Linked DNA regions of Homo sapiens. The protein of the gene in region 1 purifies or fractionates together with the protein of each later gene. This does not show direct contact. Each region holds a gene or a part of one and is shown in the gene's direction. Other genes may lie near its edges. The genes, in order: IGSF6 and CWC27.

The links.
Region 2: the proteins of IGSF6 (region 1) and CWC27 purify together in Homo sapiens (affinity purification with mass spectrometry; 2 studies listed by BioGRID and IntAct, with this or other methods). This does not show direct contact.

Annotation. Positions count from the first base shown.
Region 1 is NC_000016.10:21,646,083-21,649,910, reverse strand, and holds part of IGSF6 (immunoglobulin superfamily member 6 precursor), read left to right. Parts: intron 1-2,418; coding exon 2,419-2,778; exon of another isoform or gene 2,779-2,979; intron 2,980-3,828.
Region 2 is NC_000005.10:64,775,410-64,779,237, forward strand, and holds part of CWC27 (spliceosome-associated protein CWC27 homolog), read left to right. Parts: intron 1-3,828. UniProt on the Homo sapiens protein: As part of the spliceosome, plays a role in pre-mRNA splicing. Probable inactive PPIase with no peptidyl-prolyl cis-trans isomerase activity. As a component of the minor spliceosome, involved in the splicing of U12-type introns in pre-mRNAs.

The DNA of each region.
Region 1 (3,828 bases):
ATCGCAAAACCCTGTCTCTACTAAAAATAAAAAAATTAGCCAGGCGTGGTGGTGCACACCTATAGTCTCAGCTACTCCAGAGGCTGCAGTGAGAGGATTGCTTGAGCCCAGAAGACAAAGGCTACAGTAAGTTAGCCAAGATCACACCACTGCATTCCAGTTTGGGCGACACAGTGGGACCCTATCTCAAAAATAAAAATGTGTAAATAATGGAATCGTCCACTTTTTAAAAATAATTTTACAAATAAAAATAAAAACATTATCTGAAAGATGACTTGAGACTGAGACAGTGCTTAACTTTGCTAAGTTTTGGCAGACCCAATTCCATTTTAAATTTCCACTCAGTATATACTATAAAATGTTTCACTGTACTTGTAAGGTGCTTGAGTCTGGGCAGGAGACATGAGGTTGTATTTCTCAGACTTGAGAGGGAATCCAATCCCCTTGGCTGGAGATGGAGCTGAGCTGGGCCTCCCACAGACACGAAGCTCAGAGAAGCTTGCAGGCCTCCTCCAGGTGACTGCACCCTCTTGTCTGGTTTGCATTTATCAGGTCACCACAGAGCTCCCAGCTCATCTCATGTTGCACAAATACTAAAATATAACATGATGAGAAGAGAGCAAGGCGCAGTGGCTCACACCTGTAATCCCAGCACTTTGGAAGGCCGAGGCAAGCGGGTCGCTTGAGTTTAGGGGTGCAAGATCAGCCTAGGTAACAAGGTGAAACCCTGTCTCTACAAAAAATACAAAAATTAGCTGGGCACAGTGCTGCAGGCCTACAGTCCCAGCTACTTTTGAGAAGCTAAGGCAGGATGATGGCTTGAACCTGGGAGGTCACAGTTGCAGTGTGCCGTGATTGCACCATTGCACTCCAGCCTGGGAGACAGAGACTCTGTCCAAAAACAATAACAAAAATGAAAACAAAAACAAAAAAACATGGTGAGAAGAGACTCGCATCACAAACGCCATGATTCTAACTTTAATTCCTCTGCTGTTATGAATGGGGATCCATAAGAGAAACGCTAAGAGAAAAAAGCCCCTGTCTGAAAATTAAGCATCAGACCACTTGGATGACTTTTCAGTTTCATTTACAGTAGCAAAGGACAAACTCACACAAATAGGACCATTTGGGAATATATGACCAGGCGGAACTCAGACCAAAAACTTGACAAATTCCAATTTGTCTCAACCAATACTATTTTACCTATGGCCTCCCCTGCCGCAAAAGAAGGGTTTAGGGCGGGTCTTTCCATTTGTGCACTCGAGTGGCTTTCCAGCTTCACATGCCTGGGATATAAAGGCCAAGGTGGGGGACTCAATCCTCATAACTTGGAAGAGCACCACATGGTGGACAGTACACTGGAGTGGGTGACTAATCCCAGCTCTGTGAACACCTTGTGGCTAGACGTCCACAACCATCTCTCCAACAGCCATCTGACACTGTGGGAACAGTAGCAGTGGCGGCTGCAGCAGCAATCGCTCCCTTGTATTTAATACTTACTATAGCTTAGGCAGGTAAACACTTCCTAGGCATCATCTTGAACGTCACACTAACTGCATGAGGTCAACAATACTATCCCCATTTTCTAATGAGGAAACTGAGATACTGAGATTATAATGCTGGGAACAGGCAGAGCTAGGATTTGAACTCAAGTCTGTGCTCTTTATCACAATATTGTTAATTAAATAAGATAAATGCTACAAGGGCCTACAAAGCAGCACACACGCCAGGGAGAAACCAAATCTGCTTAGCTATGGCCTGGCGAGCTCATATGGTCCCTGCTCAGTAATCAAAGACATGGTAGGCTAAGCCAGGGCTGCATTTCCACAGGTGTACATGTTGCCTTTTATCATGTTTCCCAAAGGGACACCAGGCTCACAAAGAAACAATTGTGAATGGCCATGAATTCCTGGCGATCTCAACTCCCACAAAGCACAAACATCGCTGCTGCTCATAGGCTCCATCAGCGGCAGCAACGTTCGTCTGGGGACACAGGTTACCACACTGAACACAGCACTCTGGGGAGGCCAGGGTGCGGACAAGAAAGCAGGCAGGAGATTAAGTGATTGGATCGAAGGAAAGCTTGTAAGGAGCAAGAGTCACAGATGGACCCCAAACTTCTGAGTCCAATACGGTGCCACCTCTATGCAGGCCTCCTGCACAGGGACTCTGTTCCCCTGAAGCCTCTCTAGGGCTGGCCTCCAGTGAACAGACATCATGTGACCCAGCAGGTCAAGGTCAGAAAACAGGAGGAGTTGGGGCAAGTGAGGACCACTGGTGTTTATTTTTAGTCTTATTTATATTGGGATTAAGGTAAGAAAAATAACAGAATGGCTGGGTTTCCTACCTCAAAAATATAATAAAAGCACAAAGTGAGGTGGCAGGCCCATTAACCCACTCATCTGCTTCCTCCCACAGGTGCTGTGGGCGCCTGTACTCTCTCTGTCACACAACCGTGGTACCTAGAAGTGGACTACACTCATGAGGCCGTCACCATAAAGTGTACCTTCTCCGCAACCGGATGCCCTTCTGAGCAACCAACATGCCTGTGGTTTCGCTACGGTGCTCACCAGCCTGAGAACCTGTGCTTGGACGGGTGCAAAAGTGAGGCAGACAAGTTCACAGTGAGGGAGGCCCTCAAAGAAAACCAAGTTTCCCTCACTGTAAACAGAGTGACTTCAAATGACAGTGCAATTTACATCTGTGGAATAGCATTCCCCAGTGTGCCGGAAGCGAGAGCTAAACAGACAGGAGGAGGGACCACACTGGTGGTAAGAGGTCAGTCAGCGAGGCTTTATTTCAGTGCATCATTGCATCTTGTTCAGGCCTGTAAAATCATTACCTCACTCACATGTAGAAATCAGGAGATAAATTTGCTAAGTTAATACCCTAGCCAGTGATGGGTGTGATCTGAACACAAGTCACCATGAGGTTTGGACTAAAGAACTACTCCAACTGGCTGGGCGTGGTGGCTCACACCTGTAATCCCAGCACTTTGAGGCTGAGGTGGACGAATCACTTGAGGTCAGGAGTTCAAGACTAGCCTGGCCAACATGGTGAAACCCCATCTCTACTCAAAATACAAAAATTAGCCGCGCATGGTGGCATGCACCTGTAGTCCCAGCTGCTTGGGAGGTTGAGGCAGGAGAATCGCTTGTAACCCAGGAGGCGAAGGTTGCAGTGAACCGAGATCGCACTACTGCACTCCAGTCTGGGCAACAAAGCAAGACTCCATCTCAGAAAAACAAAAGAACTACTCCAATCCATCTCGAACATCCACTAACACAAAGTCAGTGATTTGCTGGGTGCTCTATTCTCCCTACATGGTGATGTTTAACCAACCATGTTCACCTCTTTTGTATATTACAGTGATTTAGTGTAAAGTACCATGTCCAAAGGGAACCTTGTGGTGAGTAACTATCAGCTTTCTCAGGAACTAGTCTGGTAATGCACCACCTAGAACAAAGCACTAGAGAAGTGTAAAAGATCAATAAATTGGACCCACAGAAACTATGCAACATGGAGAATAAGCACAGATTTGGAGAGAAGCTACTCAGGGATCCCTGACCCTTCCCATTCTGCCTGGACATCAGTGAACGGAAAGTGATGACTCTCACTTCCTGAGATTTGATAAAACCCATGACAATTCCTCAGCCGAGCGAGGACATCAAACATAGCTAAATCCTATCAGTAATTTCACCAAGTCATTCCCTTGAGTAAACTGAGATTAAGACATTCCCGAGAAAAAAAAAGGGGGAATTTCAGAGAAAAAGCTTTACATGATTCTGAAGGAAAAAAGAGAACAGCAGCAACTCCTCGCCTTGTTGG
Region 2 (3,828 bases), on another chromosome or scaffold:
CTTCCTAGCTATCCAACTTTCTAGCTCATTGCACTAACCACATGGTTTTAGTTGGACATTATTTCCTAAGCATTTCCTTTCCGTTTCCACTTTCATACATGTCCTCATACTAGTTCCCCTTCTTTTGGTATGCTTTTTCTTCCCTTTTTTTACTGTTTAAGTCTACCCATTTTTAAATGTCTGTTCAAAATTCTAGTTTCTCCACACAGCCTTCCAGCTAGCATCCAGTGATATTATTATCAATGTCTCTAGTTTTTTTAGATTTGAGTCATAAAGTAACTATTTTTCTTTTTTTAAAATGCTGCAGAATTATACATCCACTGAAGTGTTTTTCCCTGCAGAGTATTCTCTTAGGGAAGTAAACCTTCCATTTTTAGAGCTTTTTGTTGGCTTCTAGAATACATTACATATGGTTTGGAATATCTCCAGCGGTGGCAAATCATTGTTCTTCTAAGTTATATTTGATTTTTAGAGACAGTTTTATTCAAGGTATCAGAAAACAACATTTTGGGTCAGAAGCAAGGTGTGAAAGAGAATCCAGTAGTATGGTATGATGAGATCTCTCTAAATAGACGTAATTATCAGGTGAAGATTTAAGAAATGAAAAATACCCAGATACCACCCCCTCTCCAAAAGAGAGAGGTGGGGAGGAGTGGAGCGAGAGAGAGAGAGAGAGAGAGAGAGAGAGAGAGAGAGAGAGAGAGAGAGAGAGAATGAAAGGACATCTGCAAAGACCATTATTAATAATTGCTGTGGCAGGCAGGAAGGAAATAGAGTCAGGTAGGTAGTTCAGTCAGAGAGGCCTCAAATATCTGTTAACCAAGTTGAGAAACACAGGAGACATGAAAAAGTCAGACTTGTTTCTGGTAAGAAGTTTTGAAGATTCAAAAGCTCAAGTTTTACAGAAGGAGAGTAAAATTACAAAAACATTAGAAAGAATGAATGGTAAATTGCAATCCATGACCAGGTGAATGGAAGAAGCAGAAAACATCTGGATACAATGTGACAGTGAAGAAGAAATGAGGTTCTTAAGTTGGGTGATGATAAAACTCAATTATTACAACAATTATTCCCCTATTTATAATAATGCAAGGAGAAAGAAGAAAGAATAGAAAAATAATTTTAAAAATAACCACAACAATTATCTTAATCAAATTCACCAATCCTCTTAATTGAATAGAGATAGAATTATTATTGGAAAGGCTAACATGAAGCCTAAGAAGACTGATTTAAACAAGGATACTCCTAAATAAGTTAAGTCAAGGTTTCAAAAATATAATCCAGAAAACCCCATTTTAGTTCTTTGCTTCTATGATTTAGACGAGTCATAATGTTTCTAGATCTTGAAACACTCATATTTATTTTTTTAAAGCATGGTTTCCAGAATTTAAAAGCAAATGAATAAAACATGAACAAGTAAGAGCGCAGTCTCAGATATGGCCCTCAACTAAAATGATGTTCATAGCCAAAGGATGGTTTATAGCCTTTAAAAAACCAAAGGATCTACATTATACAGACTTAATCTTAGATTTTTGGTCTTTGCAGCATAGTTAGGTGGACATTTAAAATGAGTGGAACTTTTAAAAACTTATCAATTAAAAAATAGAGCAAAAAAGATATAAAGGAATGAAAGGGAAGCTTATTAGCTTTGATAATTTCATTAGTTCCTCCAGTGTGAGGAAGGAGTATAATTTTATGTTTGTTTTATAGACAAGTGGGGAGCAGAGGGAGAAGTGGATAAGAAAATCAAAATGTTTAATACATTGTGTGACTACTAATCTCTTCACCTTTATTTCACATCATTCTTGTCTCATCATGGTCCACACTTCATTGCTTATCTTTTATTCTTTAATAATAGTTTACTAATTCTTTAGAGTGACAAATATAAGCATAAATATGCTATAAGTTAAAAGAAATTTCTTTACAAAACTAAAATATTTGTTTAAAAAAATACCAGATAGTGCAGACTGGTCGCAAGATGAGTGTTAGATAAAAAGTTATTAATGATAACATTTACATAGTTAAACACAAAACAGGATTCTAGAAGAAGAAACGTATAACTACTTTAAAGTGCAAGTATAAATTCCTCTATGAACTTGGGCAAGAAATATAATTAGTCAAAATATATGATAATGCCCATAGATTATTGTAGCCAGAAATAGAAACCATGTGACAAATACTAGAATGACAGCAATCAAATAGGAACTTTGTTTCATATTTAAGATACATTTAGGTATCTTTTTTCAATAGTGGAGAACATTCAGGAGGATATTATGAACGTGCATAATGAAATAATAAAGCTTTTTCAAAACACTTGTGATGATGCATAAAAATTTAAGAAAATCAAATAAACATTGCAAGCAGCAAAATATACAGTATTATAAACTATAAATACAACTATAAATGCATAGTTCAATAGTGATTACTAATAAATTACAAAGAAGTAGAAATAGTAGATATGGAAGATTTGTGGACATTGGAAATTCCAGCTATGTTAGAATACAAAGTTATAGTGTAGAGAGTATAGAAAATTTTTACTCATTTATATATAGTATAATAATTTCATGCATTCAACAGGAATATAACTAGGAAAATCATAAAGAAAATCTTAAAATAAAAAGCCAGCATCACTGAAATACTTAATGGGAAATAGGAAAAAGAAAGAAAATGGTGAAATTCTAAAATTTGAAAACACAAGTAATAAAGACCTCTTTCATGTCCTTTTTCCGTCACAGGTAACATATATCTGGGTTTTATGGATCTTGCTTCATAAGTAGTTCTTGAATCTGTGTATCTCAAGATAAGCCATAGTTATGTAATGACCTCAGGATAGTAGTTGCTTGCTTGCATTCTCTCACTGGCTCTCTGTCGCATGCACTTGCGCTGTCTCTTGCTTTCTTTCTCTCTCTCTCTCTCACTCCCCCTCTCTCTCCAGTCATGTCTCTTTCTAATATATTCACACTGGGTAAGAGTGACATTTTGAAAATGCAAATCTGATCATGTGCACAGTGCTCAAAAAGTATTGGTTGGCTGCTTATTATGGGTCTAGATGAATATTCATTATATGATATATACTGGGGTATATTTTATATTCAAATTTGAATATGAATTTGTAGCATTTGAGTGAAGATATTAGTTTGACCTCACATTTGTGTTGAACTTGAAAATGTGTAGTTTGCTTTCATATTATTTAATCTTCAGATTGACACTGTGCCTTAATTTATGTTATTAGATTTATGAGAAAATGGAGTTTAAGACTGTATAGCTAGCAAAAGGCAAGACTCAAACTCCTGACTGCTACATACAGTGTTAGTGTAACTGATGAAATGGTTACCTAGGAATATAGGAGAGATACTTTAAGACCTTTTGGTTTTTATAGTATCTATTTGTAACCAGAGGGAATTTGTCTGCACTAGGGAGCTCTTGTAAATGCAGCCCAACTGCCCTGCAATGGGAGAAGGGACTAAGCAAAAATCAGCTGGTCTTCCTTTCTACTTCTTATGTACTGTGTACTAAATACAGTTGTTAGAATACAGATTATAATTTTTAAAATATGCATTGTATATCCAGTTATACTTTGCAAATATAAATAATTATGAGGGTGTCTCCAAGACACTAAAATAGGAACTTTATAAATTATGTCAGTAACTGTATCAGTAAAATGCCTGGCCCACAGTAGATACTTGATAAATATTTTTCATTGAATGAGTTATATTCAGGTTGTATTCAGTTGCAGGTAATAGAAGACCCAACTCAAAATGATTTAAATAATAAAGACATTTATCCTCCTGTATGTCAAGAAATCTGGTGAAATCTTTAGGGAAGCTC